3 separate regions of the Homo sapiens genome follow, and all the other regions are linked to region 3. The links come from fine-mapping of genetic effects on gene expression. A gene starts in region 3. Each other region holds a variant in brackets. All regions are shown on one strand. Distances are between the middles of the regions.

The links.
Region 1: its variant is fine-mapped to the expression of XPO6 in whole blood (TOPMed, PIP above 0.99). The same link has a PIP of 0.9 or more in breast, esophagus mucosa, pancreas, skeletal muscle, subcutaneous fat and sun-exposed skin.
Region 2: its variant is fine-mapped to the expression of XPO6 in whole blood (TOPMed, PIP 0.99).

What each region holds. Positions count from the first base shown.
Region 1 is chr16:28,150,056-28,160,773 of GRCh38, reverse strand. It overlaps XPO6 (exportin 6), which reads left to right. Exons shown (of 24, transcript NM_015171.4): 7 at 4,247-4,700; 8 at 7,989-8,115. Among named protein-coding and RNA genes, the nearest start is that of XPO6, 57 kb to the left of the region's middle. The variant C/G (reference allele first, on the strand shown) is at 4,978.
Region 2 is chr16:28,137,126-28,147,843 of GRCh38, reverse strand. It overlaps XPO6 (exportin 6), which reads left to right. Exons shown (of 24, transcript NM_015171.4): 9 at 1,641-1,750. Among named protein-coding and RNA genes, the nearest start is that of XPO6, 69 kb to the left of the region's middle. RefSeq lists enhancers at 760-1,275, 6,169-6,218. The variant A/G (reference allele first, on the strand shown) is at 5,582.
Region 3 is chr16:28,206,701-28,217,418 of GRCh38, reverse strand. It overlaps XPO6 (exportin 6), which reads left to right and starts at 5,454. Exons shown (of 24, transcript NM_015171.4): 1 at 5,454-6,053. The coding sequence starts at 6,051. RefSeq lists silencers at 5,217-5,706, 8,217-8,511 and an enhancer at 5,336-6,334.

The DNA of each region.
Region 1 (10,718 bases), 57 kb after region 3:
TCCTAAGAGCTTTCTCTTCGGGATGCTTAGTAATTTTTAAGAGTGAGGACTTCTGAAACCCAAACATTTGAGACCTAGTGCTGTAAAGTACAAAATAAAATGTAAACATTTACCCAGTATCTTACATAGAAAGAACATCAAATAATATTTGATCACTCCAGACATCTCTACACAGAGATAAGACAGATAAAAAGACAAAAATGGCATCAGATTATATATTTTTTAATAACATTTAAATTTTAGTTTTACTTGATTTTTTTTTTTTTTTTGGTGATGGAGTCTCACTTTGTTATCCAGGCTAGAGTGCAGTGGCATGATCTTGGCTCACTGCAGCGTCCGCCTCCCAGGGGCAAGCGATTCTCCTGCCTCAGCCTCCTGAGTAGTTGGGATTACAGGTGGCAGCTGCCATGCCCGGCTAAGTTTTGTATTTTTAGTAGAGATGGGGTTTCACCATTTTGGCCGGGCTGGTCTGGAACTTCTGACCTCAAGTGATTTATCCGCTTCAGCCTCCCAAAGTGCTGGGATTACAGGTGTGAGCCACAGTACCCAGCATTTTACTTGATTTTTTTTTTTTTTTTTTTTTTTTTTTAAGACGGAGGCTTGCTCTGTTGCCCAGGCTGGAGTGCAGTGGTGCAATCTCTACTTACTGCAACCTCCACCTCCCGGGTTCAAGCAATTCTCCTGCCCCAGCCTCCCGAGTAGCTGGGATTATAGGCACGCACCACCACGCCCAGCTAATTTTTGTATTTTAGTAGAGACAGGGTTTCACCATGTTGGCCGGGCTTGTCTCGAATTCCTGACCTCAAGTGATTTGCCCGCCTTGGCCTCCCAAAGTGCTGGGATTACAGGCGTGAGCGACTGTGCCCGGCCAGGTTTTACCTAAACGTAACAAAAATTGTTAAACTTAAGGAATTGCTGACCTTGAGGTGCTTTTTCTACAAGAAATACTAATTTCTAAAAGATACCTTTATGGTTAAGAAAAAATGATAAAAATCAATTTTGTACTACATGTTTGAATTTTATGTATCACCTCCCCCCGCCACCATGTTTAATTTTAGACCATGTATTTTGAGACTTCTTCCTTGTGAAAGATGGGAAAGTTAGCTAGCGCACCCTCTTAATTCCTACGTCTGTTTAGTCTTGAGTCTCTATGTAATTTGATGCCAGTGTGTCCTTTTGCTACAGCTTCTCCATTCCTTAATTCTTTATTTTGATTTATCTCTTTATCTGTGTGGTTTCTTTGTCTGTTATCCTCCTTGAGAAGAATTTGTGGAGTTACCTGAGTTTTTGCGTGTTTGAGAGAATGTCCCCATGCTGTGAATGTTACTGTGGAGAAGTCTGACTGAGGTGTTTTCTCCTTTGTATCTGTACTTTTTCTGCCTACACTGCTTCCTCATTTTAAACATTCTTAGTATTGATCACTCTTCATCATTTTTTTCTTGGAACAGGATAAAACCCTTTCATGTTGTAGAGTCATGTCAAATTTCAGGAAATTTTTCTTCTTGTTATAGTTTTTTTTCTTCTTTTCTTTTTTCTTTTTTTAAAGACAGAGTCTTGCTCTGTCACCCAGGCTGGAGTGCAGTGGTAAAATCGTAGCTCACTGCAGCCTTGACCTCCCCGGGCTCAAGCGATCCTCCCACTTCAGCCTCCTGAGTAGCTGGGCCTATAGGCATGTGCCACCATGCTTGGCTAATTTTTGTATTTTTTGTAGAGACGGGGTGTCGCTATGTTGCCCAAGCTGGTTTTGAACTCCTGGGCTCAAGTGATCTGCCCGCCTCAGCCTACCGAAATGCTGGGATTACAGGTGTGAGCCACCGCTCCTGGCCTGTTGTTATAGTTTTAAATATTTTTCTTCTTTTGTCTTCTCTAAAATAATTTTATAGCTTTTTTTCCCCTGTTTCATTTTGTTTGATTTCCTTTAGTCTAGTGCTTTCAAAAATCAAGCAAGCATAAGAATCACTTGGAGTGCTTATAAGAACACAGATTCCTGGGCCCCAACCCCTTCAGGCTCTACTCCAGTAGGTGTGGGATGGGGCCTGATGATTTGTATTTCTGACAAGTTCCCTGATTACATTACTGGTCCAGGTCCACAGAGTAGCCCCGTGGTCCTCCAATTTTGGGTCTTGGGGTCCCTTGACTCTTAAAAAATTACTGAGGTCCTCAAAACACTTTGTAAGTTATATCTGCTGATAGAAAAACTGAGAAAAATGTACAAATAGTCATTAATTCATTTAAAAATATCTGTGATGAACCCATTACATATTAACAGATAATATGCTTTAATAAAAAATAACTATATTTTTCAAAGCAAACAGAAAAATTCACTGAGAAGAGTGGTGTTGTTTTACAGTTTTGCAAATCTCTAACATGTGGCTTAGTGAAAGGCAGCTTCTGCATTTCATCTGTTGCAATATCCCATGTGATGTAGCCTCTGGAAAGCTCCATTGTACACTTGGAGATAATGAAAGTGAAAAAGGAAAAGAACATCTTAGTATTCCTTTAAAAATAGTTTTGAATTTGTGGACTCCCTTCCCCGTAATCAACAGCCATTTTAATGTAGATAACCTCTGTCTTCTGTTTGGTAACATGTTCTTGTAAGAACTTACTGTTTTGTGTCCATGTATTTTAATATGTAAGTGGTATAGTAAAACTGTCATTCTGTTTCTTACTTTTAATTTAACTGTATCTTTTTAAGGTCTCTCCAAGCTGTTGCCCGTCTGTGCCTTAGTCCTCTACTTCTGCTCACTGTGTGATATGATACCTGACTCTGCATTCCCTATCCTCTCCCGCCAAGGAGGAGGCCAGACTGCCTCCAGCTCTCCCCCTCACGCCTGTCCCTTCATGGACCCGTGTGAGGGTTGCTTTGGGAGCATACCAGGAGAATGGTCAGGTGAAAGGATATGTGAATGTTTAATAGGACTCCAGAGTGCCAGGTCCTCCTCAGAATGGCCCTTCTTCCTGCACCGCCTTGTGAAGGTTCCTGCATCCATTCCTTGTACTTGACGTCTGGCATTTGCCAACATTTTTTCAGACTCCTTTTAATTTGCTTTTTCTGATTACTAATGAATTTGAAATCTCTTCATATGCTTTGGAGTTTCTTTCTCTGAAAATTGTCTCTCCATATCAACTGCCTGTTTTTGTACTGGGGTTGTTGTGTTTACTGATGTGTAGCATTTTAAAAATAGATTTTAGTTTTTAGTCCTTTTCGATGTTAGAAATTGTGAATATCTTCTCACAGTCTGTTGTCTGCCTGGTAACTTTCCCTTAATGTTTTTCATTGATTAGGAACTCTTTTTTTATTTTTATTTTTTATTTTTTGAGATGGAGTTTCGCTCTTGATGCCCAGGCTGGAGTGCAATGGCGTGATCTTAGCTCACTGCAACCTCCACCTCCTGGGTTCAAGCGATTCTCCTGCCTCAGCCTCCCAAGTAGCTGGGATTACAGGCATGCACCACCATGCCTGGCTAACTTTGTATTTTACTAGAGACAGGGTTTCACCATGTTGGTCAGGCTGGTCTTGAACTACTGACCTCAGGTAATCCACCCGCCTCGGCCTCCCAAAGTGCTGTGATTACAGGCATGAGCCACCGCGCCCAGCCTTGATTAGAAAATCTTAATTTTGTTATATTCCTCAGTATTTTTTGTTAAGGTTTTCTTTTTTGGTAGTTTTAAGGAGTCTTTTTCTCTCTTATATTTCAAATACTCTTATATTTTCTTCTGTTAACTTTAAAGTTTTATCTTTGGTTTAAGTCTTTACTTCATTTGGTGCCCAACTTTGTATGTGGTGTTAGGGATTTTTATTTGTTTATTTATTTAATGGTCATGTATCATGCTTTTCAAAAGCAAGGTCATGATTTGGGGGAACAGTAGCAAGAAAACAAAAACTTGAGTGGATTTGGGGTTTTGCAGCCAGAGAATAATCCCATCTTCTCTTCACTTATGTCTCCTGGGAAACTGCTGTTGTACAAATCTCACTAAAACTAAATTTGAGTCAAAACACTAAAGATTGTATCCAGATCCCCCTCACTAAGAATCATAATCAATTATCTTATTTTTGCTGTACTGTTAAAATTTCCTAATTAGTGTTTAACTTTGAGCATATAGATTTTATTTTTTTATTTCATAGGTAACTAAACTGATACATATATGTATACATATATATATATATTTTTTTGAAGGAGAATTACTTAAAGTCATTTGTAAGAGATTTGATGCTGGATAGCTTAAAAGCCTTTCTTATTTTCAGGTGACTTACTGAGTAACCTGTTGCAGAGTCCCAGTTCAGCCAAACTGTTGAATCAGCCAATTCCCATCCTTGATGTGGAGAGTGAGTATATCTGTTCCCTGGCTTTGGAGTGCCTGGCCCATCTCTTCAGTTGGATTCCTCTGTCTGCCAGCATCACCCCATCCCTCCTTACCACCATCTTCCACTTTGCACGATTTGGCTGTGACATCCGGGCCAGAAAGATGGCGTCAGTTAACGGCAGCAGCCAGAACTGTGTCTCGGGTCAGGAGCGCGGCCGGCTGGGGGTCCTGGCCATGTCCTGCATCAATGAACTCATGTCCAAGAACTGTGTGCCTATGGAATTTGAGGAGTATTTACTGCGTATGTTCCAGCAGACTTTCTACCTCCTGCAGAAAATCACCAAGGATAACAATGCCCACACAGTGAAGAGCAGGCTAGAAGAGCTCGATGAGAGGTAATGAAACCAAGTGTGGAGCTGGTGTGCCCCAAGAAAGGGCCCTGACTGTTTACCATGCTGTGCTGCATGGCATCTGTAATCCTCTTTGATTTCAGAATATGGGGCTCCTGGTGAGGAACAGAAAGGTAGGTGTGTGCCAGTAAGTCTGAGATTAGCTGGAAGGGCTTGGGTGGTTAAGGGAAGTGACTGAGTTTGAAAAATGCTTGTGCCTTGTGTAGGTTTGTTGTCTTTTCTCCCCATCCATCTCCTGTCCTCCCTTCTACTCCTCTTGCCC[C/G]CTTTTCCTTACTATTTGCTTGCAGGTCTGAGGTGGTGCAGGGACTGAGACTGCTGCTCCTGCGTAGCCAAGAACAGGAGAAGAGGTCCGTGGAGGTACAGGAGTTATAATCGCCTTTTGTCACTTGGTGTCAGTTTTTACTATTTGACTTTTCCCAAGTGAACATCCTGCAGTATTCAGGAATGTTGTTGTTATTGTGAGTTTTACACCAATGGCAAGTTTTCATCAAACTATAGGAGGGATGTTAATGTGTGCACAGGTTAATGTAGCACACAGCTGTGTTTCTTTGTTATTGTCCTCTCAAGTGGAGCCTACAATGACCTACTTTTTTTTTTTTTTAAAAGCACTCTAAAAGACGACTCCATCACAGTACTCTGAGGCAGGGTTTCATGATTTATGTCTCTTGCAGATGAGGTCATTTATGTATCTTACAACTGCTGCTGTATGAAAACAGGAGGGAATTTGGAAACTTATATTATGAACAATCAGATTGACGGTTTAGGGACTTTCAAGCAATAAATCGTATCGAATTAGTAAATATTTACAGATGACATGGCAGCAAAAGTTGCTAATATTCTCAGTTTTCCTTAGATTGTCCTTTGTTATTAAGCTATATAGAATTAAGCTATTTTCTTTTCCTTAGAGTAAATAGCAGAATATAAAATCAAGTGCATAAAGTTGAAAGTTGTAGTGCTTTTTAAATTGGGCAGTTTTGTAAAATATTTCTAAAATTAAAAAATTGGTACATAAGATTATTTTGGTTTGGTTTATTGTAAAACCGTGATGTTTGCTCTGTATAAGAACACAATCTGATATGGTAATATGTTCTTAAAAATTATTTGGTGATAGCTTTCCATATGAATTCAAAGGCATCATTATTCACACTTTCATATTCTTTCTGTCTGTGGTTAAGAAAGGCTGTATTACCTTTTTTTTAATGATCTGTGTGTCTCATGTCTATCTCTTCATATGTTAATTTAAAAATCTAGCTGCTTGTATCAACTATCAAATATCAGTTGTTTTGACTTTAATCATAATGTAGTCACAGACAACTTTGTTGTGGCTTCCATTTGGATGGTATAGAAATGTCATTATGGATTGTCTATGTACTGATGTTGTTACGTGTAACTTTTGTGCTCTTGGTTTTACATTTTAATCCTGTGCTTCCTATTGCCCTGTGAAAGCTGAGAGGTGCCTGGGAGCAGAAAGGTGACATAAATAATGCTGTGTGCTTGCTTCCTGGCTCTGGGTCCCCTACCACTAATTCTAAACAGCTCAGTCCATTCTCAGTTGTTTAGGAGCTGCTAACCAGATCCTTGGCTTCTCTTTCCCTCTACTGCCTTTTCCCCTAACTTTCTACTGTTCATTAGCACCTGTACCAGAAGGTGGGCAAGGGAAAGAAAATGAGGTGAAATAAAATCTGTAGTTTTAGCTACTGAACAGCCTTGTTTGTATTTTTAAAAAATTGGGTTAGATACTAAAGTAAAATTGAGATTGTTCTGTATTTAGCCCATGGCTTTTTTTTTTTTTTTTTTTTTTTTAAATGGGTAGTAGGGAATTGAGTGCACCTTCCTAAAGAACAGTCAGCTGGGTGGTGACTTTGAATATCCATGTAAAACTATCATGCGGTACATAAGTGAGTGAGGAAGGAGTTCCTACTCTTGAGTATTAGTGATTGATGACACCAGAGAGAAGTGTCTTTGTATGTTCCTGTCTCTAAAAACAGTTGATTTTAGTGCCTTACTGTTTTTCGAGTACTTGGCCCCATGATCCACAGAGACAGCCATTCTCTTTATCAAAACAAATTAATATGTATTTTTTAAAAAGCTGCAAATAAGCTCGGCCGCATAGAGGTCAGGCAGGCAGGCTGGCCACCCTCAGGGAGATAGGTCCCAGGAGCAACATGGGACATTTTATTTCCGGGCCAGTTTTGCTTTTCTGAGTAGTAGTTTTCTCTGCTTTTATTATTTCACATATCTCTGTTTTGAAAAATAGCTTTTGCAGTAATGAGCTTCAGAATTGCTTTTAGCCATTATTTCATTTTCAGCTAAGGCCTAGTATGTCTTTACCTTTTTGTGTTGGTCTCTGAAATGTGATTTATGAAGGTATGGCCATCTCATTTTCTAATCACCTTTTGGTATTTAGGGGCTTAAAATGACAGTTTCTGAAATGTGAGAGTGATGATGTGCTGTGTATTTAATAACAGAGATCTCTTATCCTTGCAGCTGTGACCCATACTCTTCTGTGAAATGATTTTGTGAATACAAATGAGTTGGGGATTCACTGTGAAGTGAAAAGAAAGAGCACTGGATTGGGAGTGGATGATAGTCCTGTTCTGCCATGAGTTGGCTGAGTGACTTTGGGCTGGTCACTTTACCTCTCTGGGCTTCATCTGCAAAACGGAAGCATCAGACTAAAGTCCCTGAGGCTTGCCCAGTTCTAATAGCCTTCCTCCCTTATATTTGAAATCACTTTTAGAGTATTGGGTTGTGCTGTGTTTAATTAGCACCAGGAACCAAAGGGGGAAAAATGGCCATTAAGTTGCAAGCCTGAGTACATCTTACCTGGATGCCATGCCCTTCGTAGCCTGGTTTTGTTTTTGTGTCTTTAGCACCATTCACTTTAGTATTTTGGCCTCCCGGAAAGAAAACCAGCCTTCTAGACTTGCCAGATTGAAATGACACAGTGATCTGCCCATCAACTTTTTATCATTTCCCTTCACTTTAATTGGGTCACAACACAAATGACTTAGAAAATGTGAGCGCACTAGATTATAAGAAGCCTTAGCAGACAGTGTCTGAGGATTAAAGTTGCTTTTCTGCTATGTTTCAGGTGGTTAATGGAATGAAGGGTTGCCTGTCCTGTAGGTAATTGTTGCAGGCCTTTATATTTTTAAAAGAAAATATATTACAAATTTGTATAGTTCTGTACTGAAAGAACTTTGGATTGAATTTAAGTTCTAAGGAGGTGGCTGGGTTTCTTATTGTCACCTTTTGTCTTGTCTCATTTAGCTATATCGAGAAGTTTACTGACTTTCTTCGGCTCTTTGTGAGTGTTCACCTAAGAAGAATCGAGTCTTACTCCCAGTTCCCTGTGGTGGAGTTTTTGACACTTTTGTTCAAGTACACATTTCATCAGGTAAAGCACCAAAGTCATCCTTCCCTTCCAGAGAAAAGGTTTATTACCTTGTTACTTTGAGAAGAAAGAACTTTTTCTTTCAACTTTATTTTCCAAACATTAATATAATGCTTATTATGTGAAGAGTCACAGGTTTAATCTTCCTAACATCCCTGTGAAGTAGGTTCTATTACCATTGTCATCTCTGTTTTGCAGGTAAAGAGACTGAGGCACAAAGAGTAACTTGCTTAGAGTCATACAGTTAGTAAGTGGTGGAGCTGGGATCTGAACCCAGAGTCAGGGCTCTTGACCACTATTATGTGAACAAAGCAAAAGAAAGGAAAAGTCTGAAATTACGGCCTTTAGTTCTGTTCTGTAACTGCCACTGAAACCTCCTTCAAGAAGATTATATATAGTGAAGCTCTCAAGAGTTAAGTTTTGGTAGTGTCCAAGTTTTTCTCCCCCTCACAAATATTTTTTGAGCTCCTATTGTATTCCAGGATTTAGACATACAACCTTCACAAGCAGTCTTTGCCTGCATTGAGTTTACTTACATTCTAGTGACCCTAGTCATTCTAGTATGTGTGTGTACACACACACACACATAAAAAATATATAAAATTATATATGTGGCTTTATTGAGGTATAATTTTATATACCATGAAATTCACTCATTGTAATTGTATAACTCAGTGATGTTCAGTGAATTCATGGAGCTGTCCAAACATCACCACAGTACAATTTTAGATATTTCTATCACATCCTATCCCCCGTGCCTGTTGGTGTGTGTTTTATCTTAGTTTTTAAAGTTTTTGGTAGACATTGGGTCTTGCTATGTTGACGAGGCTGACTTTGAACACCTGGCCTCAAGTGAGCCTCCTGTCTGGGCCTCCTGAAGTGCCAGTGTTACAGGCGTGAGCTACCGTGCCCAGCTGTGTGTTTTTAAAATAAGCTTTTTATTGAAGTATGACACACATACAGAAAAGTGCATAAATCTTAGGTGTAGTTAGATGAGTTTTCCCCAAATTGACATATGCATGTAACCATCACCTAAGTCAAGAAGTACATTGTTGCCAGCAACCAGGAAATCTCCTCATGTCCTTTCCAATCACTTCCCCTCGTTTCTCCCCAGAAGTAACCCCAGGCCTGACCTTAATACCACAGACTAGTTTCGCCTGTTTTAGAGCTTCTCTGAATGAAAGCACATAATGTATGTTTTATCTGTGTTTTTATTGGCCATCGTGTTTGTGAGCTTCGTTTGCGTTGTGTGTGGCAGTCATGTGTTGATTTTCGTTGTGCTGTTGTTAAGTCATTGTTTGCAAGTTCACTCCCCTGCTGATTTGGCTGCTTCCAGTGCTTACTGATCTTGCAGTGAACATTCTTGTACGTGCTTTTGGATGTACACAGATAGCTGTTTTAGTTGATATGTACCAGGGATGAAACTAATGGGTCACTGAGGACATTTGATTTTAGAAGTAGCCTTTTTTTTTTTTTTTTTTTAACCACTAGTGTTGTAGCTTAATGTGTCTAGAGGAAAGGCAAGGGTCTAGGCTAGGAGGGTTGTGTATATGACTTGGAGCAGGGGTTTGTTGGGAAAGCTGTCCTTTCTCAAGGAAGATCTTGGCATGTGAAAATAGAAGAGGACCCAGTGGTAAGGATGAGCCAGTCCTGGGAGCAGGGGAGGGAAGGCCAAAACTTGAAGAAGCTCAGAGGTGTCAGGTAGAGGGGCAAGTGCGTGCAGAGCATGAGGAGAGCCGTGCCGAGGTCATAGTCCTCAGGAGAACTTGAAGTGACTGCAGGAGGGTGAGGATGTAGGGGAGAAGCATCAGAGGTGGAACAGTTTTGGGACATCCAGAGGAATTTTAAAGGAGACCATGAAAAAAGAGGATTTGAGAGAATGTTGAGTGAGTGTTAAATAGCGTAACAGAAATGAGGGAGCTGAGGAGCCAGTTCTGAGGCCAGAAACAGGAGGCTTACTTGGGGGAGATGGAATGACAATGTCTTGACATTTCACTCTCTATGTAAAATGGGGTCTTCTGGTGTGTATAGTATAGAAGAAAGTGAAACATCTTTTAAAGTAGGCATGTCTTATGCCTGATTCTTTGGATTGGACCCAAAAGTTTTGTGTTTGAGGTCTGCTTATTTCTATTAGTTCTGTGTCCTTGGAGAAACCTTAAATTTACTTAGATTTCAGTTTCCTCACCTAAGAAAATAGACTGCAGTGGACATCTTCAGGCCTTTCCCCTGGCTTATTTTTTATGATTCTTTCAGTAGACTCCTATGTGTCATCGAATTGAAAATGGTGGTTTTATATATTTATATATTATATTTATATATTGGGAAAGTAATTGGGGAAAAAGTATGCTCATGAAGCAAACCACAAGCTTCTTTCCTCCTCTCTGTACCTGGAATCGTCAGATGAGCTCCTTTCTGCTCTCCTGTCTCCTGTATGAGGACCTTCCTTTCTGGGAGCAGGCTGGCCACCTGTGGGAGTAGGTATGTCTTTGACGTCCAGACAGAATCAGATTCTGAGCATTAGGTAGAGGGACAGGAACCTGAAAGGTACACTGTCCCAGCTTACTGTGGGTAAACCAGGGCAGACAGCCCTTTGCTGGGGAGGTAGA
Region 2 (10,718 bases), 70 kb after region 3:
TCCCGAGTAGCTGGGATCACAGGCGTGCATCGCCATGCTCGGCTAATTTTTGTATTTTTAGTAGAGAAAGGGTTTACACCATGTTGGCCAGGGTGGTCTCAAACTCCTGACCTCAAGAGATCCACCCGCCTGGGCCTCCCAAAGTGTTGGGATTACAGATGTGAGCCACTCGGTCTGGCTGCCGTATCATTTCCATGTGGCTTATTCATTGTTTTTCCTGGTTATTCTCCTGGTTCACTTCATGTCGTGGATATTGTCAGTATTGCCAAGTATGAGGTAGAGACAGGACTTGGTCATTTTGTTTTCTGAGGTTGGTCCTGTCTAGTTCCAGAGCTACCCTTTGGGTCGTGAAGTTGGAATTTGCCTGGCTTTTTAAGTTACACTCTTTTCTTTTTTCTTTCTTTTTCTTCCTTTCCTTTCCTATTTTAATTTTTTTTCTAAAATATACACACCGAGTCTCACTATGTTGCCCAGGCTGGTCTCGAACTCCTGGTCTCAAGCAGTCCACCTGCCGTGGCCTCTCATAATGCTGGAATTACAGGCATGAGCCACCACGCCCAGCCAAGTTACACTTATTCTGTCTCAGACTTCAGCTTAGGTACAGAACTCCCACTGGATACCACCACCCATTGTTAGTTATTTCTTGGGCACCTCCATGTATGCCCTTGTAAACGTCTAGATTTCCATGTGGATCAGCAATGGAAAGAAACTGATCCAAGAAGGTCATGTTATTATTTATTTTCATATTTGATCTTGTCACCAAATATGTGGTCCAGTGAGACAGCCACCAGCAAAACCAAAGGAGTCTTTCAGGTAGTGAGCATTTGAGTGGAGATATCAGGGTTTGGAGCCACAAGTTGAACCTGAATGCATAGGGGAAGGAGTAGCTGTTGGAGATTGTGTTGCCTGGACTTTGCATGAAATAGAGTCTCAGAGCCCTTGAGAAAGTTAACTAGTGCAGTGGTCTTCATTGTACTACTAGGATCCTACAAAGACTTCTCACTTTGTTCCTCCACATCAGCACCTGGTTGGAGGTTGCTATTAGCACGTTTGACACCCTTGCTTTTGCAAATGGGATAATGCCCTGAGGGTCAGACTTAATGAGCTCATTTTCAGTCTGTTCTGTAGGAAGACTGCAAGTGTTACTTTCCTTACATTCAAATGTGTGAACCTGTCACCTTTGGAGCCACTGAAACTGATTTTTGCTTTCGTAATGGTTTGTAATGGAAAGAGCATTGGCTGGGGGTAAAGGGACTTGTTTTTACCTCTGGCCTTGAACAACTTATATCTCTGAATCTCGATTTCTCTCTGGAAAATAGATTTAAACTAGATGATCTGTAAGAGCCCTCTCTACCAGTCTCAGATTTTAAGATAGGTTTTTGCTTGACTTATTTTATAACTCAGTTTATGCTGCACAGTATCTCCCTCATGATGTGTTCCATGGTACCCTTGTCTTGTAAGGTTCAGGAGGGCCCAATGGTATAGACCGACTAAAAGCCACCAGTTTTGGTTACCAGGAAACTGGGGAATCTAGGCTTATGATTTCATCATTCTGCTGGAATTAAACACTGGCATGTGTGTGTTTCTAAGGAATAGTAGCATTAAATAATTTCATTGTCTGGATTTTTTTTGTACCATAGCCTACTCATGAAGGTTACTTCTCTTGTTTGGATATCTGGACGCTGTTTTTGGACTATCTGACAAGTAAAATTAAAAGTCGTCTTGGAGACAAGGAAGCAGTTCTCAACAGGTAAACTCCTCAAACACTGAAAACTAGATATGGTCATTTTGCCAGTTATTCTAGTGGCCTAAGAGACAGCCATGCATTTGGACCTTTTCAGTGAAGCTGAGTCATGTAAGCTGTTTAGGCAATAATGCCATTGAGCATTTCCTTTTTTTTCTCCTTTAAGTATTTTGTTAAGACTTTTTAAAATTTTAAAAGTAATATGTATTACTAATTTTTTATATTTTAGTGCATTTGTGTTAATGTTCTTAATTTTTTAATAGCCCTTATTTTAGAGATACAAACTGAAGTATTTATTGGATAAAATGATATGACATCTGGGATTTGCTTAAATAACCCAGTGGGGGTAGAAGGGAAGTGGGTTCCTGTAGAGAAGAAACAGGCTGCCCATGTGTTGGTGATTGATGTTGGAGTTAGTTCCTAGGAACTTGGGGTTCATTATGTTCTTACCCCATTTGTATGTGTTTGAAAATTTCCTAAATAAATTAATAAATACCTGTTAAGAAAAAGGTGTTCATTTTTAAATCTAGGAAAAGATATAGGAAAATGTAAGGAAGATAAACATAATCCCACACCCCAGAGATAATTGCTTTTGCACTTTTTGTTGTATTTTTAAAAAACAGAGAATGCGGAATGGTTTGTTTCCCCCCCCATATGTTTCTCAAACCCATTTTTCTTGCTTGCAGGAAGAGAGTATATTTCCTGTACAATATGTTCTTTGTGCCACAGGGTGGGGAGAAGAGGAGGGGAAGGTGGAGATTCAGCATGCCAGGAAAATAATGGCAGCATCCATATATGGGGAAAGTAAATGTGGCAGCTTTTCTTAGCAGAAACATACCCATCATAGTCTCAGTAGGTGACTGCATCCCAGTCACACAGTGAGCAGGCAGTCATGAAGGAGGCAAAGAAGCTATATTTTGCATTTTAGGATCAGAGTAGTTTCCTAATAAACTAAAACTGATTCGTGTAATTTGTATATTTATGCTATGAGATTACAAACTAGGTGATCTAGCCCTAAGTACTTTATCATACTTAACAGAGTGCCTGCAGATTTTACTCAGTTTGGTTATAGCTCCTACTTCTTTGCACAGTATTTATAAGAGCAATTTCAGATTAGGTGGTCATTGTGTTGTAAAACCAGTGCATGAGGGGGTTCTGTCGAGTGGAAGCCATGACGGGGAATCGCACAGACCTATGTTTGGATCCTGGTTTTGTAGTTCCTACCTAGGGGTACTTGGGTAAGGTACTTAGCCTGTGGAAGCTTCTGTTTCCTCATTTGTAAAATGAGGATGAAAATAATAGTTGTTGAGACATTAATTGAAATAACGAACTAACATATTTAGAATGCTTGGCACACTGCAAGTGTTCACCTGGTGGTGGTGTTAGTGAATACTCTTTCCCCATAAATGTACCAAATGGAGGAAGGTGGAGAGGAGAGACTCCACTGCAGAGAAAAGGTTGGGCTGGAACTCCAAAGGCTTTTCCATTGCTGAGGTTTTATGAGTTTAAAAAATTCTAAACAGGACCTAGATGTGGTAGTATGTACCTGTAGTCTCAGCCACATGGGAGGCTGAGGCAGAAGAATCGCTGGAGCTCAGGAGTTCAGAACTGTTGTGTGCAGTGATCACGCTGTGGCTGGCCACTGCTCTCCAGGCTGGGAACATAGTGAGACTCCTTGTGTCTCTTGGTACCAGTCACTGGTACCATTTGCTGAACTCTGTCTCTATTGAAAATTAAAATAAATAAATATGCAAATATTCTGTTGAGAATTTTATTTTCCAAGTTTAAACATTTGTTCTTTTGTTCCCAAAGATGGTTTTTGTAATTGTGGAATAAGTTCCAGGTTGCTATGGTGTCAGGTCACATGTGTGATTATAGGTAGTACGTTCATATATCAGAAATCGTATTACACACAGGAGATCCTGTTTTTGGTGAAGTTGCCAACTTTAAGTAATTATGTTTTTGAAATGAGATTCTTGAAGGAAAAGTTACTTTTGCCAAAATAATCTTTCTTGCATGCTAAATAGGCATATCTTTTTGGTTCTGGGACTATGCCTCATTTTTCTATATTTAGTGGTAGATATTCCTTCATATCTCTCAAGCTTGTTGTGAGAATAAACTGAGGAAATGATTAATATGAAAATGCTTTTTAAAAAACAGTACAAGGCCGAGTGCGGTGGCTCCTGCCTGTAATCCCAGCGCTTTAGGAGGCCAAGGCAGGGGGACCACGAGGTCAGGAGTTCAAGACCAGCCTGGCTGAGAAGGTGAAACCCTGTCTCTACTAAAAACACAAAAATTAGCTGGGCGTGGTGGCAGGCATCTGTAATCCCAGCTACTTGGGAGGCTGAGGCAGGAGAATCTCCTGAACCCGGGTGGCAGAGGTTGCAGTGAGCCAAGATCATACCACTGGACTCCAGCCTAGGCGACAGAATGAGACTGTTTAAAAAAACAAAAACAAAGTACAAATGAGAGATGTGAAGAATATGGTCCTGTTGAGAAAATATATACTAGCAGATTATTAGTATTAAACACACACTTTTGCAGATCATTATACTAATAGAGCAGTGGTATAGAGAATTTAAATTCTTTTTTTGCTTTAGGCTAGCCGTGTTACTTTTGGTCAAGTTATATGCTGATCACATTTCCTCTTGCAAAATGGACGTACTTAACACTTCTCTTGCAGGATGGTTAGGATTCAAGGAAATCATGTATGTAAAATACCTGGCACAGCATCTAGATGTATTAGGCACTCAGTAAATGGTCACAGTGATGACAACAGCAATGATGAATAATAGAAGATGTTACTGCCTTTAGACTGTGGTTGTGACTGTAGCGTTAGGTGGCATGGCCCCTGGACAGTCTAAAGGCCTTTAGCCCACCTGCAGATGTTTACCTGCCTGCCCTGGCATCTGTTGTCTAATGTCACAGTTGTCAGTTGTTCTGGCTGACCACTTGAAACAGTGGGAATTTTTCTCATTGATCATGTGATTATCATCCTAAATGAGGCTTTTTAATTTTTCATGATTTATTCTTTTTTAAACATAACACTTTCATATAATGCCTTTATGCCTTTGAAAAATAAAACAACAGGCCAAGTGCCATTGCTCATTCTTGTAATCCCAGCACTTTGGGAGACTGAGGCAGGAGGATCACTTGAGGGCAGGAGTTTGAGACCAGCCCGGCCTACATAATGAGACCCTGTCTCTACAAAAACTTAAAAAACAAATTAGCCAGACATGGTAGTGTGCACGTGTAGTTCCAGCTCCTTGTGGGGACCAAGGTGGGAGGATCACTTGAGCCCAGGAGTTTGAGACCAGCCTGGGCAACATAGCAAGACTCTGTCTGTACAAAAAATACAAAAATTATCCAGGCATGGTGGTGCATGCCTGTAGTCCCGGCTACTCAGGAGGCTGAAGCAGGAGGACTGCTTAAGCCCAGGAGTTGGAGGCCACAGTGAGCTATGATCATGCCATTGCACTCCAGCCTGGGCGACAGAGCAAGACTCTGTCTCTAAAATAAAATAAAACAACAACAACAACAAAAACCCCTCCAAGCTCCTCTGGTTAGTGCTGTTAAATAGTAACCACCGTCTGGGGAACTGCATGTCCTGTCAGATACCCCTTAGTGGTCTAAGACAGTAGACTACAAAGAACATGTGTTAGTCCAGTGGGCTGCACAAAGAAAATATTTCAACTTCAGCTTATAATTTTTTCTGTAACCCTTAACATTCACCACTCCAGACTATGAGAGACTCTTAATATATCAGAGATATGCTGTTTTGCAGGAGCAGCTGCTGAAGAACACTGGCTTCTGGTGATGACCACATTTATGTTAACT[A/G]AGAGCATGCACATGTGATCAAATGTTTGTCAACTGATAAAATATACCAGAGAGAAGTTGGGATGTTCTGGAATCATATTTCAGAAGCAACTAATCTTGCAGGAAGTAGTCAAAAATGTTTTCTTGCTGTCTTAAATGGGAAATGTAGGTGTGGTTAAGTCACAAAGGCAGCACTCATTTCCTGTCCCCTGTGGTTTAAAGGTTTTGCATCATTCATCACAACAAAGTGGTAAGCATTGTAGGCTACAAATTTAGAAGCACAAATATACATAGATTTATTTTTGGTCCTAGGAGCTTGGAAATTGGAGCTCTGCATGCTCACTTGCCTGGTCAGGAGCGCAGTGGCGCGATCTTGGCTCGCTGCAAGCTCCGCCTCCTGGGTTTACACCATTCTCCTGCCTCAGCCTTCCGAGTAGCTGGGACTACAGGTGCCCGCCACCACGCCCGGCTAATTTTTTGTATTTTTATTAGAGACGGGGTTTCACCGTGTTAGCCAGGGTGGTCTCGATCTCCTGACCTCATGATCCACCCGCCTCGGCCTCCCAAAGTGCTGGGATTACAGGTGTGAGAGGAATTTCTTGATGAGAGACTGTGGGGACTTGAGAGAGCCTGAGCCCCAGTGTTAATGGGGTAAATGTTCTGTAGCCATTCCTGCAGAGTGGAATGGCCGATGGGGTAGATCATCCTGATCTGTATTTTGAGGTGGTGGCATGGAAAGGCCCGGATTTTCCTTTCCCTTTCCTTGTTTGTGCTTTTGGATGGTTGTGCCTTCCTCACAGATTGTTGAGAAAGTGGGATGAACTAATGAGCGTAAAGTGCCTTGGCTGACAGTAGGTGCTCAGCAAATAAGCATTGGTTCACCTCCCCTTTCTCTCTCACTTCCGGCTCTTTGTGCTTGTCAATGTGAAGGGAGTCACCTGTGTAGAAACTTATTTTTACAGGAAGGTGAAGAAACCTGAGTGTGTGAAGCAACCTAAAGTCATTGTGTCATGTTCTGTGAGCCTCTTTGTGACTAGACTTCTGGCAAGTGCTGGCCACAAACCAACGTAGGGATTCTGGTGACATTAGATAGGACTGTAAACAAATGTGAGTGAGGGTGAGAAAAACTGCTCCTTGCTTTTTGGAGTGGGTGAACCTGCTTAATAAAGAGGAAGTGCCACTGTTACACATGACATTGTGGTGCAATAAAGGTGTGAACTAGGTTTAGATCAGAGCTCTAGCAGCTTTCTAGTTCTTGCTCTTGACTGCCCCACAGGGCAAGTGAATAGAGTCTTAGTTGCTTTATTGAGTTGAAAAAGCTATCCAGGAATATGCTTCAATCCTTTGTATTTACCTGACTTGGAATTTTGTCTGTTTATCACCTGTGTGTTTTTCATTCATTTCTTTGTTCATTTGTTCTTTATTCATATATATTTTATTGAGCACCTACTATGTAGTTGCCTTAACATGTATAATTTTATTTAACTCTCAGAACTTGAGGCTTATAGGCTTATCTCTGTGGTGTATATAAGCATTTAATGCTGTAAATTTCCTTCTAAGCCCTGCTTTAGCTTTATCCCTCAAAAAAAATTTTTTTTTTTTTTTTTGAGACGGGGTCTCACTCTGTCACCAGGCTGGAGTGCAGTGGCGTGATCTTGGCTCACTGCAACCTCTGCTTCCCGGGTTCAAGCAATTCTCCTGCCCCAGCCTCCCGAGTAGCTGGGATTACAGGCACAAACCACCACACTCAGCTAATTTTTGTATTTTCAGTAGAGACAGGGTTTCACCATGTTGGTCAGGTTGGTCTCAATCTCATGACCTTGTGATCCGCCCGCCTTGGCCTCCCAAAGTGCTGGGATTACAGGCGTGAGCCACCACGCCCGGCTATCCTTCAAATTTTAATGTTACATTTTAATTTTCATTTGATTTAAAATATTTTCTAATTTCTTTGGAGATTTCCTGTTTAGTTTCCGAATATTTGGGGATTTTCCATATACCTTTTTGTTATTGTTTTCTAGTTTAATTTGTACATGTCTTTTTTTTTTTTTTTTTGAGATGGGGTCTTGCTCTGTCACCCAGGCTGGAGTGCAATGGTGTGATCTCGGCTCACTGCAACCTCCACCTCCCAGGTTCAAGCGATTCTCCTGCCTCAGCCTCCCAAGTAGCTGGGATTACAGGTGCCCGCCACCACGCCTGGCTAATTTTTGTATTTTTAGTAGAGACAGGGTTTTGCCACGTTGGCCAGGCTGGTCTGGAACTCCTGACCTCAGGTGATCCGCCTGCCTTGGCCTCCCAAAGTGCTGGGATTACAGGCGTGAGCCACTGCGCCCAGCCTGTACATGTTGTCTTTATCCTACTTATTCTATCAGTTACTGAGAGGGGGGTGAATTCTCCAAAAATAATTTTGGATTTGTCTGTCTCCTTTTAGTTTGATCAGTTTTTGCTTCATTTATTTTGAGACTCTGTTAGTTGCATACACATTTAGTTTTCTTTTCCAGTGTGTCTATTGAGTGTTGGACCACATTTCTTTATGTGGGTTTTTTTGGTGGTTGCTCTGGGTATTACAGTATATATACTTAACTTTTCAGAGTCACATTTTACCACAAGGGTGGTATGGAAACCTTACCACCATATAGATTAGAGTCCTTTAGCCTCTCTTCTTTATATTGAGGTTTTACATATACATACTTGGAAAACCCCACCAGACAGTGTTCTAATTTATACACGTACCCATCATTCATATTTTATAGCTCTTAAGAAGAAAGAAGTAGTCTATTAGATTTACCCAGACATTGCCATTTCTCTTGCTTTTCCTTCCTTCTTGAAGTTCCAGGTTTCTTTCTCATATTGTTTACCTTCTCTATTAGTTAGATTGGGCTACCATAACAAAATACCACAGGCTGGCCTTAAACAACAGAAATTTATTTTCTCTTAGTTTTGGAGTCTAGAAGTTCCACTTCAAGATGCTGGCAGATTCTGTTTCTGTGAGCTCTCTTGGTAGCTTGCAGATGGCGCCTTCTCTCTGAATGCTCACGTGGCCTTTCTTGTGTGCATGTGAGGAAAGGGAGGGAGAGAACCCTTGTGTCTCTTCATCTTCTCATAAGGGCAACAGTCCTATTGGATTAAGGCCCTACTCTTTGACCTCACATAACTTTATTACCTTTTTATAGGCCCTGTCTTCAAATACAGACACATTGAGGGTTAGGCTTCAATATATGAATGAGTACTTTTTGGGGGAAGAGTCGCACAATTCAGACCATAGAGGAACCTCATGGAGCATTGTTATTATAGCTGTTTTAGAGTCATCGATAATTCCAACACCTTTGTCATCTTGAGGTTGGCATCTGTCGATTGTCTTCTCCTTGAGAAGTTGTGTCTCTTTGAGTAGCAAGTAATTTTTTGAATCCTCTTACTTATTTGTTCTACCATTAGGCGTGGCTTCCCTCTCCATCATCATCTTATGGTCAGAGATGGATGCTGGATGATGCTACAGACATCATACCCATGATTCAGGCAGTAGGAACGAGAAGTGGGATAGGTTGGGCAAAAGAAGCTTTCTTAGAAGTCCCACCCAGTAGCTGCTTTTAGGCTCTCGTTGACCGCCCCCATCTTCAGGGGAGATGTTGTCCTTGAGTTGGCCTCAATACCCAGTGCTCTCTTGCTGAGGAAGGAGAATGGGTATTGGGCAGGCAACCAGAGTGTCTGCCACAGCCATATACTTTCTCCACCTCCCACATGACACTTTGGGAGATCAGTGATCTATGTGCATGTTTGCCTGGTTCCTACTTGGACTTAATTTTCTAAGCGATACGGGTTTTTTTTGCAGCCAGAGTTGCCAATTGCCAGTTAAGATTTTAGGTCTAATTTAGGGTTACATTTGCATAGAAAGTCTCTAAATTTCCTTTTAGCACAGCAAGACAATTTATAGATGACAAAATTCATCTGTCCTCTGGTCTGAAGTAGATTTTCTTTCCTAGGAGAATTGTGGAAATATTTTGATCTGTCACAGCAATTTATAGTGTGGAACTTCTGTAACTTTAGAAATTTATGTCTTGAACAAAGGCAAAAACATAAACTCTAGGCCTAAATGTTTGATCTTACCTTTCTATGGAGTTTACTAAGTGGGATTTTGACTTTATTGGGTGAATTTTCCCACAGACGTTGCAGATTTTATTAGTGCCTTTTTCCCTGCCGGCATTCTTTCCTGGGCCCTGTTCAGTTGCTAGTCTACTTTAGGGCTGGCGTGTGTTAGGTTGTTAAGTCGTTTGCATACAGTTGGGGAGTCATTGCTGGATATGGGCAAGTAGGGAGTGTCTCTGTCTCTAGTTAAGAAACGAGCTGTCGGGAGCTAAATAGTGGGTGCTCGTGGACATAGGATGGCAACAACAGACACTGGAGACTGATAGAGAGGGAGTGGGGAGGAGGGCAGGGGCTGAAAAGCTATTGGGTACTATGCTCAGTGCCTGGGTGAGGAGATCAGTTATACCTCAAACCTCAGCATCACGCAGTATACTCCGGTAACCAGTCTGTACATGTATCCCCTGAATCTAACATAAAAGTTGAAATTATGTTAAAAAATAAGTAAATAAATACAAATGTCAATTTTGGCATAGGTTAAATTTTTAAGTTAAAAAAAAAAAAGATACTCTGGTCACCAAAATCTGAAATGGGACAATCCAGGAGGATTTGTAAGTGGTCTGTAGACTGATTCTCATCACATGGGCTGTACCTCCTGGACTAAATGGACTGTATTTGGTCTTGGTATTGGATATCTTTTAACTTTGGTTATCATGTTGTCCCAGTACTCAACTGTATTAGATTGGGTGGTGTATTAGAGTCCTGTCAGGAAATCAGAAACCATACTTAATTATTTGAACAGAAAATTCATTTTAGGAAATTGATTAAATAGGTTTCAGAGGAAACACTGAGATAACACAGTTGATAAGTACAGGAAGTGGCTTCACCCCTAAGGCTAGAAGTACAAAGGCAAGAAGCTGGGGCTGTCAAAATCTGGAAGATCACTGCTTGGTCCCTGAGCAACTAGGGTTCAGATCTCTGAAGAGAGGGCCCCATCTAGCTGCCACAGGAGTTCAGAGGAGGGATCTTTTCGAACTGGGACCATTCCTTTGAGGAGAGGGTGTTGCCTCCACCTCTGAGG
Region 3 (10,718 bases):
CATATGCCCTTCTCTCCACCAGGCTTCAACCTGGAAGAAGGGAAAGCCTAGATATGCCAGGGCCCATGAGGATAAATGACCCCCAGTCAAGGAAGCAGAACCAACGAACAGAGAGAAACTGAATTCTGTGATATTCACACCCTGAATCCACCATATCTGAAATTCATCCAAACCTTTGGATGGCGTTTTACGAGACAATACATTCTTTTTTTCTTCTTCAACTGTTAAGAGTCCAAACTTTAGGGTCCCCACCTTGTTACTTGCAATGAAACGGACACAGTGGAAGACAGCTTGGAGTAGGAAAAGGACTGAAGACTGCAGCAGCCAGGTGAACTTCTATTCGTCCATCAAGACCCAACCCAAAGGTTACCATCTTTGTTGCTTCCTCCCCATTTCCTCGTACGCTTAGGAAGTTCATACACACCTCACAATGTGCTGTAATTATTTGGGTGGCTGTTGCTGACCCAGACAGTGGACAATTTGCCTGATTCTTATTCACTTTAAATACTTCATTTTTAGCAAAAGGCCTGGCACAAAGCTAATACTAACTCACTGAAAGTTTGTTGAATGAATAACTAAATGCAGGCGATCAAGGCAGTAGCAATAGAAATAGGCAGGCAGAGATGGCTGGGGGCCATCCCTGCAGTGCCAACTAAAAGTAATAGCAGCCTTAAATCTTTTTTTGGAATAAGACAGGCTTCAGATTAATATTAATAACAAAATGTTATTTAGTTTACTTGAACAAAATCCCTGGAGTCAAATTTATAATAGCTGTGACTTATCTCATGCCTCATGTGCCAGGTGTTTTATGTACATTAAATTAAATCTTCACCCCAGCCTGGCAATGGAGCTATGATGTGGTGACTCCACACATCCAGTTTATTCTGAGGAATTGAAAGCAACTCCAGGGGATTCTATAAGCCACTCATAGCAGTTCCACCCTCCTTCACTACGGCTAGATCCGGGGGACTAGGCCTAGGCCAATTAGGATCAGTAGGGAAAGCTTCTTGGCTTGAGAAAGGATGTGAGAAAGGTGCTCTCTCTTTTTTCTTTATTTTGAGATGGAGTCTCACTCTGTCACCCAGGCTGGAGTGCAGTGGTGCAATCTCGGCTCACTGCAACCTCTGCCTCCTGGGTTCAAGCAATTCTCCTGCCTCAGCCTCCTGAGTAGCTGGGACTACAGGCGCCTGCCACCATGCCCAGCTAATTTTTTTTTTTTTTTTTTTTGAGATGGAGTTTTGCTCTGGTTGCCCAGGCTGGAGTGCAATGGTGCAATCTCGGCTCACCACAACATCCGCCTCCCGGGTTCAAGCGATTCTCCTGCCTCAGCTTCCCAAGTAGCTAGGATTACAGGTATGCGCCACCACACCTGGCTAATTTTTTGTATTTTTAGTAGAGACGGGGTTTCTCCATATTGGCTAGGCTGGTCTCAAACTCTCGACCTTAGGTGATCCACCCACCTCGGCCTCCCAAAGTGCTGGGATTACAGGCATGAGCCACCATGCCCAGCCTCATTTTTGTATTTTTAAGTAGAGATGGGGTTTCACCAGTTGGCCAGGCTGGTCTCAAACTGCTGACCTCAAGCGATCCATCCACCTTGGCCTCCCAAAGTGTTGGGGATTACAGGTGTGAGCCACTGTGCCCGGCCAAAAGGTGCTCTCTTTTGCTGGATTTGAACAGGGAATTTTGTGGCCCTGGCTGTTCCTGGCAACCACCTTGACAACAAGTCTGATAATGGAGAAGAGCAGAGCAAGGAAGTCCTAGAGGAATGGCCGGGCGTGGTGGCTCATGCCTGTAATCCCAGCACTTTGGGAGGCCGGGGTGGGCAGATCACTTGAGCTCAGAAGTTGGAGACTAGCCTGGGCAACACAGTGAGACATTGTCTTTGCTGAAAAAAAAAAAATCAGCTGGGCATAGTGGCGCACACCTGTAGTCCCAGCTAACTGGGAGTTTAAGGTGAGAGGCTTGCTTGAGCTTGGGAGGTCGAGACTGCAGTGAGCTGTGATTGCGCCACTGCACTCTAGCATGGAGAACAGACTGAGACCCTGTCTCAAAAAAATAAAACAAAACAAAACAAACAAACAAACAAACAAACACACACAAAACCACACACAGAAAAAAAAGAAAATCCTAGAGGAATGGATCTAGGCCTCCCATCACACCCAGCCAAAAGCTAATGAATCTCTGGAAGTCCAGTTATGTAACCCAAAGGCATACCCTTAAGTGAGTCAGTTGCATTTCTGTTATCTCATTCAATTTTACAGTAAGGAAACCAAGACTTCGAGAGTCAATAACTCAAGATACCTTAGCTAGTGAAGTTAAGAGCTGGATTCCACTCCAAATGAGTCTCAACCCAAAGCTTTCACTCATCCTACTAAACTAAGCCAAGTAAGTGACTTGGCCTCCATTCCGATTCATCAGCTTACCTACTGAGATGGCTTCTCTTGTACATGCTGTTTCTACTGCCTGGAATGTTCTATGCCCCCTCTCTTTGCCTAGCAAACTCCTGCTTCTTTAAGGCCAAAGCTTAAAGAAATGTCACTTCCTGACTTCCTCCCCATCCTAATCTGCCAGATTATTTTAGATCCCTTGGCCTTATTAGCGTGTAAACTATATTAAAGTTATATCATGTTAGTTTCAATTTTTCCTTCATTGCTCTTATCACAATAACTGATCCATTATTGTACAATATTTTACAAATAATTTGTCTTTAAATTCCATAAGGGCACACATATATTTGTTTTGCTCAGCATTGAATCCTTGAAATAGTGACTGTCACTTAGTGGACAACAATAAAGATTTGATAAAATAAATGTGCTTGAGGCTGGGCATGGTGGCTCATGCCTGTAATCCCAGAACTTTGGGAGGTCGAGGTGGGCGCATCACTTGAGGTCAGGAGGTGAGACCATCCTGGCCAACATGGCGAAACCCCGTCTCTACTAAAAATACAAAAATAAATTTAGCTGGGTGTGGTGGCAGGTGCCTGTAATCCCAGCTACTTGGGAGGCTGAGGCAGGAGAATTGCTTGAACCTGGGAGGCAGAGGTTGCAGTGAGCCGAGATTGCACCATTGTACTCCAGCCTGGGCAACAAGAGCGAAACTCCCTCTCAAGAGAAAAAAAAATAGTGCTTGATGGCCTGGCGCGGTGGCTCATGCCTGTAATCTCAGCACTTTGGGAGGACGAGGCGGGTGGATCACCTGAGGTCGGGAGTTTGAGACCAGCCTGACCAACATGGTGAAACCCCGTCTCTACTGAAAATACAAAAAATTAGTTGGGTGCGGTGGTGGGCTCCTGTAATCCCAGCTACTTGGGAGGCTGAGGCAGGAGAATTGCTTGAACCCAGGAGGCGGACGTTGCGGTGAGCCGAGATCATGCCATTGCACTCCAGCCTGGGCAACAAGACCGAAACTCTGTCTCATTAAAAAAAAAAAAAAAGTGCTTGAGGCTGGGAGTTTGAGGCTGCAGTGAGCCATGATCATGTCACTGCAACAGAGTGAGACCCTTTCTCCAAAAACAAACAAACAAACAAACAAACAAAAAACTAAAAAACCCCTGAAAGCTATTGCTTTCAGTGGTAAAGTGTTGTATCAGTGGTTCTCCAAATGTGGTATCTAGACCTGCAGCATCAGCTTCATTTGGGAGCTTGTTAGAAATGCAAATTATTCAGCCCCATCTCAAACCTACTGGATGGGAAAGTCTATGAGTGGAGCGAGTAATCTTTGTTTTAACAGTCCTTCTGGGTGAATTGATTCAGATCACACTGAGGTTTGACAGGAAAGAAAAATAGCTCAGGGAAGTCTGAGTTATGTGAAGTATGCAAAATTTGTCAGGTCCACTGAGACTTGTGTATGGGAGTTCGGGCACACTCCCACCTCCACATGCTCGGGGACAATTGTTTAAAGATATTTTGTTCCAGACTAGCTGCCTCCCCCATTTCCTTCAGGTTCCTGAAATTTGTGATACAAAGAACAATGTATAGGCAATAGCTTATGTTATTTTTTCCCCCTTTCTCATCATTCCTATTCAACCTTATGTTATGCCTCTTTTTTCCTTAGAAACCCACTTGAAGCCAGGCGGGAGGGCTCACGCCTGTAATCCCAGCACTTTGGGAGGCCGAGGCTGGCGGATCACCTGAGGTCGGGAGTTCAAGACCAGCCTGGCCACTATGGTGAAACTCCGTTTCTACTAAAAATAAAAAAAATAGCCGGGCATCATGGTGGGTGCCTGTAGTCCCAGCTACTCGAGAGGCTGAGGCAGGATAATCGTTTGAACCCGGGAGGCGGAAGTTGCAGTGAGCTGAGATTGCACCATTGCACTCCAGCCTGGGCGACAAAGCGAGACTCCGTCTCAAACAACAACAACAACAAACTACACTCTAGTCTGGGCGACAGAGCAAGACCCTGTCTTAAAAACAAACAAACAAACAAGGAAACCCCATTTGTAACTGCCACTAATTGGACTATACTTCTGGTGGGCCATCTTCAAGCTTCGGGCTTGAATAAACCCTATACTTAAATACTATTTTCTCAATCTCGTTATTTAAGGTTGACAAGGGCCATTGGGTTACATAGATTTGCTCCAATCTATGTAGTAGGCACACCCGCGGGCTCAACCTCAGCTGTTTGGGATAGTTTCCTGACTGTTTCTTAAAATTAGCACTTTCAGCCTGGCTGGATGACTCATACCTGTAATCCCAGCACTTTGGAAGGCTGAGGCAGGAAAGCTGCTTGAGCCCAGGAGTTCCAGACCAGCCCAAGCATCAAAAGGAGGCCTCACCTCTGCAAAAAATAAAAAAATTTAGCTGGGCATGGTGGCGCACCAGGAGGTTGAGGCTGCAGTGAGCCATGATTGTGTTACCGCACTCCAGCCTGGGCAACAGAGCAAGAACCTGTCCCCAAAAATAAAACAAAATAAAGATGAGCACTTTCACGAGTAAAGTGGATTGGAGGATGGGAACAGGAATCCAACACATTCTCTGCCTCTCTCAGCACCTTGGCTATCGAAGTTACGTTTATCTCCCCTGTCCTAGCATCCACAGCAGGGCCTGGAATATAGTCGGGCAAGAGTGTGTGGACTGCATGAATGTAAGCTCCATAGGGCCGCGTGTCGTCACGCTGCCAGCTCGATGCTCCGCCCGTAAAAGGCACTCACTAAAATTTTAGCGGAATGAATGGGCGAAAAAAGCGAAAGGGAAACCACGCCTTTACTAAAATGGCAGCCCGGGCTCCCTTTACCAAGATGGCTGCCGGCCCGCGTGGACGCACGGGCGGTGGGCGCAGGGGGCGGGGCAAGAGAGGGCGTGGTAAGAAGGCGGGGCCAGTGGGAGCCGTCAGGTGCAGCCCCGCCCTCCGCCCTCCGCCCGCTCCCCCCGCTCGCCCCGCTCGATTCCGGATTGGTCCGGTTCCAGCGCCGCAGCCCGGCGGCCGCGCTGTGGGGCCGCCCGGCGCTCGCCACTTCCGGCGCGTTGGGGCTGTTGGTCGGGGGCGGCCGCGCGGTACTAGCGGGCGGCTCCAGGGCGGGCGCGCGCAAGGATGCTCTAGGGGGCGGCGGCAGTGGCCGTGTGGGTTGAGGCTGCGAGGACAGCGCGGGCCCCCGGGCCTCTCCCCTGAGCCGGCCGCCTGGGCCGCGCGGTCGAGGCCTGTCAGCCTCCGCCCGTTCAGCCTCGGGGCCGGGGCCGCCGCCACCTCTGCCCGCGGAGGCCGGGGAGCCCCTGCCTGGGCCCGCAGCCTCCCCCGCGGGGGTCGGGCCCGGGCGGGGGTCCCGAGCAGCTGCCCTCCTCGCCGGCATCCGAGCCTCATTTCCTGCTTTTTCAGTTTCCTTGGGGAGGGGCGGGTGGGTCTGGATGAATTGTCTCGGGGTCCCCCGATGAGGCGACCCGGGCGGCCCTGCCCTTTTTAGAGGGTCCCCTCGGGGCCCGGTGGGGAAGGGGTTGTCTTTGCATGGGTGGGGGACTTCCCGAGTCTGCCGGGACCATGACCTGAACTGTGCGAGCGGGACGTGTCCGAAGCCCAAGAACCAGCTCATCTGAGCCGCCCCCTCCCCGGCCAGCATGGTAAGTGGAATTGGAGCCCCCTTCCCTCCTGGGGTGCCCTACCGGAAGGGTGGGAATGGGCCCCGGGGCTGCTGAGCCATCGCTGCTCTCCCCATGGCGGGGAGAGGCGCGTGCGGAGCCTGGCCGGTGACACATGCGTGCAGAGTGTGCAGCCCCGGCCCTGCGCTCCCATCCCCCCAGGGATGATGGCTCAGGCCTGGGAGGGCCCTGGGAGCGCAGCAGGCACAACCCTTGCATCTGGTGTTTGCCTCCTGCAGCTCCTCCGGATAATAACTATCGTTTATTGAGGGCTTACTACTTGCCAAGGCCCTGCGCGAAGTGATTGACAGTGCAGTAGTATTTAATGATCACACCAGCCCTCTGTTCGGAAGTGGGGAGACTGAGGCACGGAGCAATTAATTCCCCAGCTCAAGGTCAAGCGACTTTTTAACAGTGTTAAGATTTGAACCTAGGCATCTGACTTTGAACCTAGGCATCTCTAATACACTTAGAGAGCTGGGTGATTGTAGGAGAAACATCTCATCTAGCTGTAGGTTTATATATGAGGAAACAGAGCGATTTACAGAGGTCACTTGCACAGGTGATGGCAAAGTCAGGAATGGTCGTGATCTTTTGACACTGAGGCTGCTATTCTACATGCTCTGATCTCTGCTGAAGCTACCTTCCACGTTTTCTAGACCGATACTTTCAATACTCCCCTAAATGTGTGTACTCACATCTCTTTGTGTATCCACATCTCCACGTTTTCTAGACCGATACTTTCAATACTCCCCTAAATGTGTGTACCCACATCTCTTTGTTAAGCATTTGCCTTTTTGCTCTTGTAATTATTTCTGAGCCTTATCTGTCTATTGCGGTATACACAGCTCCTTCAAAGACCAAATTGTTTGAACCCTTATCTGCTCCAGCTCCTGGCACATAGTAAGCCCTTGGTAAGTACTGGATCACCTAGCCTGTGGTTGAGCACCTCGAGGAGTGGAGCTGTTCTCCTCAGTTTCACCCATTTTACCCCTGCCAAGTTAGTGGTATAATAGAGAAAGGGACATAGCTGCATCTTTTGTGATACAGACCTTAAGGCCTGTGGAATTTTCGAAACATTCAAGGGGCCTGTGGGTAGTGTGTAGGTCCTGAGATATGGAGCTTACAACCAGCTGGGTAAAGTACACCATTAATGCTGAGCAGCACCGTACAGTATATGCTATACGTATAGTGTATGTGTTTTATTTTTATTTGTTTTGAGACAGGGTCTTGCTTTGTTTCCTAGGCTGGAGTGCAGTGGCACGTTCATGGCTCACTGCAGCCTCGACCTCCTGGGCTCAAGCAGTCCTCCCACCTTAGCCTCCCAAGTAGCTGGGGCTGCAGGCAAGTGCCACCATGCCTGGCTAATTTTTTGTGGAGATGAGGTCTCACCACGTTCCCCAGGCTGGTCTTGAACCTGAGCTCAAGTGATCCGTCCTCCTCAGCCTCCCAAAGTGCTGGGATTACAGGCGTGAGCCACCGTGCACAGCTGAGTCTATGTATTTTAACATATATATTACACAGTATGAATTGTGGCAAATCAGTTAAGCTCTCAGTTCCAATTTCCTCAACTATGAAATTTGGGGATAGGATTTCTCTAAAGAGTAATCTAGAGGTATGAGGTATAACATTTAGTGGCTAATGAAAGTAGCACTCATTCCTTCCTTCATTTATTCTTTCAGTAATGCTTTTTTTTTTTTTTTTTTTGAGATGGAGTTCAGCTGTTGTTGCCCAGGCTGGAGTGCAGTGGTGCAGTCTCAGCTCACGGCAACTTCTGCCTCCCGGGTTCAAGTGATTCTCCTGCCTCAGCCTCCCGAGTAGCTGGGATTATAGGCATGCGCCACCATGCCCGGCTAAATTTTGTATTTTTAGTAGAGATGGGGTTTCACCATGTTGGTCAGGCTGGTCTTGAATTCCTGACCTCAGGTGATCCACCCGCCTCGGCCTCCCAAAGTGCTGAGATTACATGCATGAGCCATCGCGCCCGGCCTCAATATACTTAAGTTTTGTTTTTTAATTGTAGTAAAATATACATAATTAAAATTAGCCATTTTAACCATTTTTAAGTGTACAGTTTAGTGAAATTAAGAACATTCACATTGTTGTGCAACGATCACCACCATATATCTCCAAAGGTTTTTTCCCAAAACAACCTGTACCCGTCTTTTTTCAGTCTCTCCCCTGCCCTACTTTAGTTTCTATTTCTATGAATTTGACTACTTTAGGTAGCTCATGTAAGTGGAGTCATGAAGTATTTGGCCTGTTGTGACTGCCTTATTTCACATGGCACAGTGTTCTCAAGCTTCATCCGTGTGGTGGCGTGTGTCAGAGCTTCCTTCCTTTTGAAAGCTGAATTCCATTGTGAGTATGTGCTGCATTTCATATATCCTTTCATCCTTCGGTGGATACCTGGGTTGCTTCCACCCTTTGGCTATTGTGAATAATACTGCTGTGAATATGGGTGTACAAATCTTACAAGTGAATTTTCAGTAGCCACCACCATATACCAGGGCCTAGGGCATGTACAGATGAACAAGACACACATTCCTCCCCTTGGGAAACTTACAGCATTGCTTTAGGACCCTTGGACAGAATTTTGTTATTGACTGAGCTAGCCCAGCACCCTTGTATTGAGGTTTCATTTTAATTGGCAGTCAGTAGAGCATCATGGGAATGACCACCTTTGAGTAATGAATTGTAAAGTAGTTGGCTTCATGAACTCCATGTGCATTTTTTCTGAGGTACGTTGCAAGTCAAAGTTTTTGTCACCTAGACCTCAGTTATTTAAGTACACAGGGGGTGGCCATAGTTGATGTGAATAGGATTGTCCTTTTTGTGTCACTGACACAGTGGTTCATCTGTAGGTATCCCAGGGTCAGGGGCTTGGGTAGGGTAGGCCCTGTCCCCCAAAGGTAAGGAAACTGTTGCCTGGCTGGTGTCTTACAGGCGGAGGGTCTTTTCCCTGGGATCCCAGCTCTTTATTCCAGGAAATTATTTCCTCTCCATTTCTTGCTGACTTAACATTTTTACTTTTAAGGGTATTAGTTGGCATAAGTTTGAGCCCTTTTAACATCTTCTTTTTAAATCTTCAACTCTAATAAGACTTGAAAGTGGCGTAATGTGATAAAAACTACCACTTATTAAGCATCTTTGATGTGCTAGCTATTCTTCACTCATTACTTGTTTTTTCTTTCTTTTTTTTGAGACGGAGTCTCGCTCTGTCACCCAGGCTGGAGTGTAGTGGCATGATCTTGGATCACTGCAACCTCTGCCTCCTGGATTCAAATGATTCTCCAGCCTCAGCCTCCTGAGTAGCTGGGATTACAGGCACGCCCAGCTAGTTTTTTTTTTTGTTTTGTATTTTTAGTAGAAATGGGGTTTCACCAGGTTGGCCAGGCTGGTCTCGAACTCCTGACCTCAGGTGATCCACTCGCCTTGGCCTCCCAAAGTTCTGGTATTATAGGCGTGAGCCACTGCGCCTGGCCAAGTTTTTCTCTTAGTCATTCAGTATCAGTAAACCCCACCAACTCTGCTAGGTTCCACTATGGCTGTTCCTGCCAGAGCGGGAGATGGACAGACCTGCTCTGTGATTCCTAGTTGACAAGTGGTGGAGTTGGCATTTAGACCCAAAGTGCTGTACTCCGGAGCCTGTGCTCTTTGGGTGCTGCCTCATGGGAAGGAAGATCAGGAGAGTCTTCCACCTGTATGTTGTTTGGCTTAGAGATAGATAGTGGTGGAGCATAGGGAGTATGGGGAATTTTGTTTACACTATCCCTGTTGACCTTCACATTTAGAACCAGTTTAAAAAGATTTATAGTTGCAGTATAGAATTACAGGAAGAGCTAGCATACTATAACTGTATTTGATTAAATCATTTTTTGTTGCATTCCCATGGATTCTTAAGTGGTGTGACATGTTAGAGGTTCCCACTACTTTGCTGAGAAATTATTACTTAGTATTGAGCGAGCTGTTGCTTAATATGAAAATTGTGTGCAAAATTGAGTTTTTGCTTATATTAGCATTTCTTTTTTAGTTGCTTAGAAATTGAATTGCCTGCTAAGGTTTGTTTTCTTTCTTTCTTTCTTTCCTTTTTTTTTTTTGAGATGGCATCTTGCTTTTGCACCCAGGCTGGAGTGCAGTGGTACGATCTTGGCTTACTGCAACCTCTGCCTCCCAGGTTCAAGCAATTCTCCTGCCTCAGCCTCCTGAGTAGCTGAGATTACAGGCACCCACCACCATACCCGGCTAATTTTTGTGTTTTTTAGTAGAGATGGGGTTTCACCACGTTGGTCAGGCTGGTCTCGAACTCCAGACCTCAGATGATCTGCCCACCTTGGCCTCCCAAAGTGCTAGGATTACAGGTGGGAGCCACCACACCTAGCCTTATTTTTTTAATATCAGTTACCGTGAGTGGCCCCTGTAATGGAGGCAGAATCAGAACTGAAATTTAGCCACTCACATGGCATGTCATCCACTTGTTCATCCACAGCATTGCATTGTACCCCATGCTCTCAGAGGTACAAAGAAGACATGGGGGTGCAGGGAGATGGCAGGGAAAGGTTCAGCAGTACCCAGAGGTTTTGTATGTCAGTCACAGCATTAGAGAAAGTCTGGAGAAAAAGTTACCTGTCAAGAAATGACTTGAAT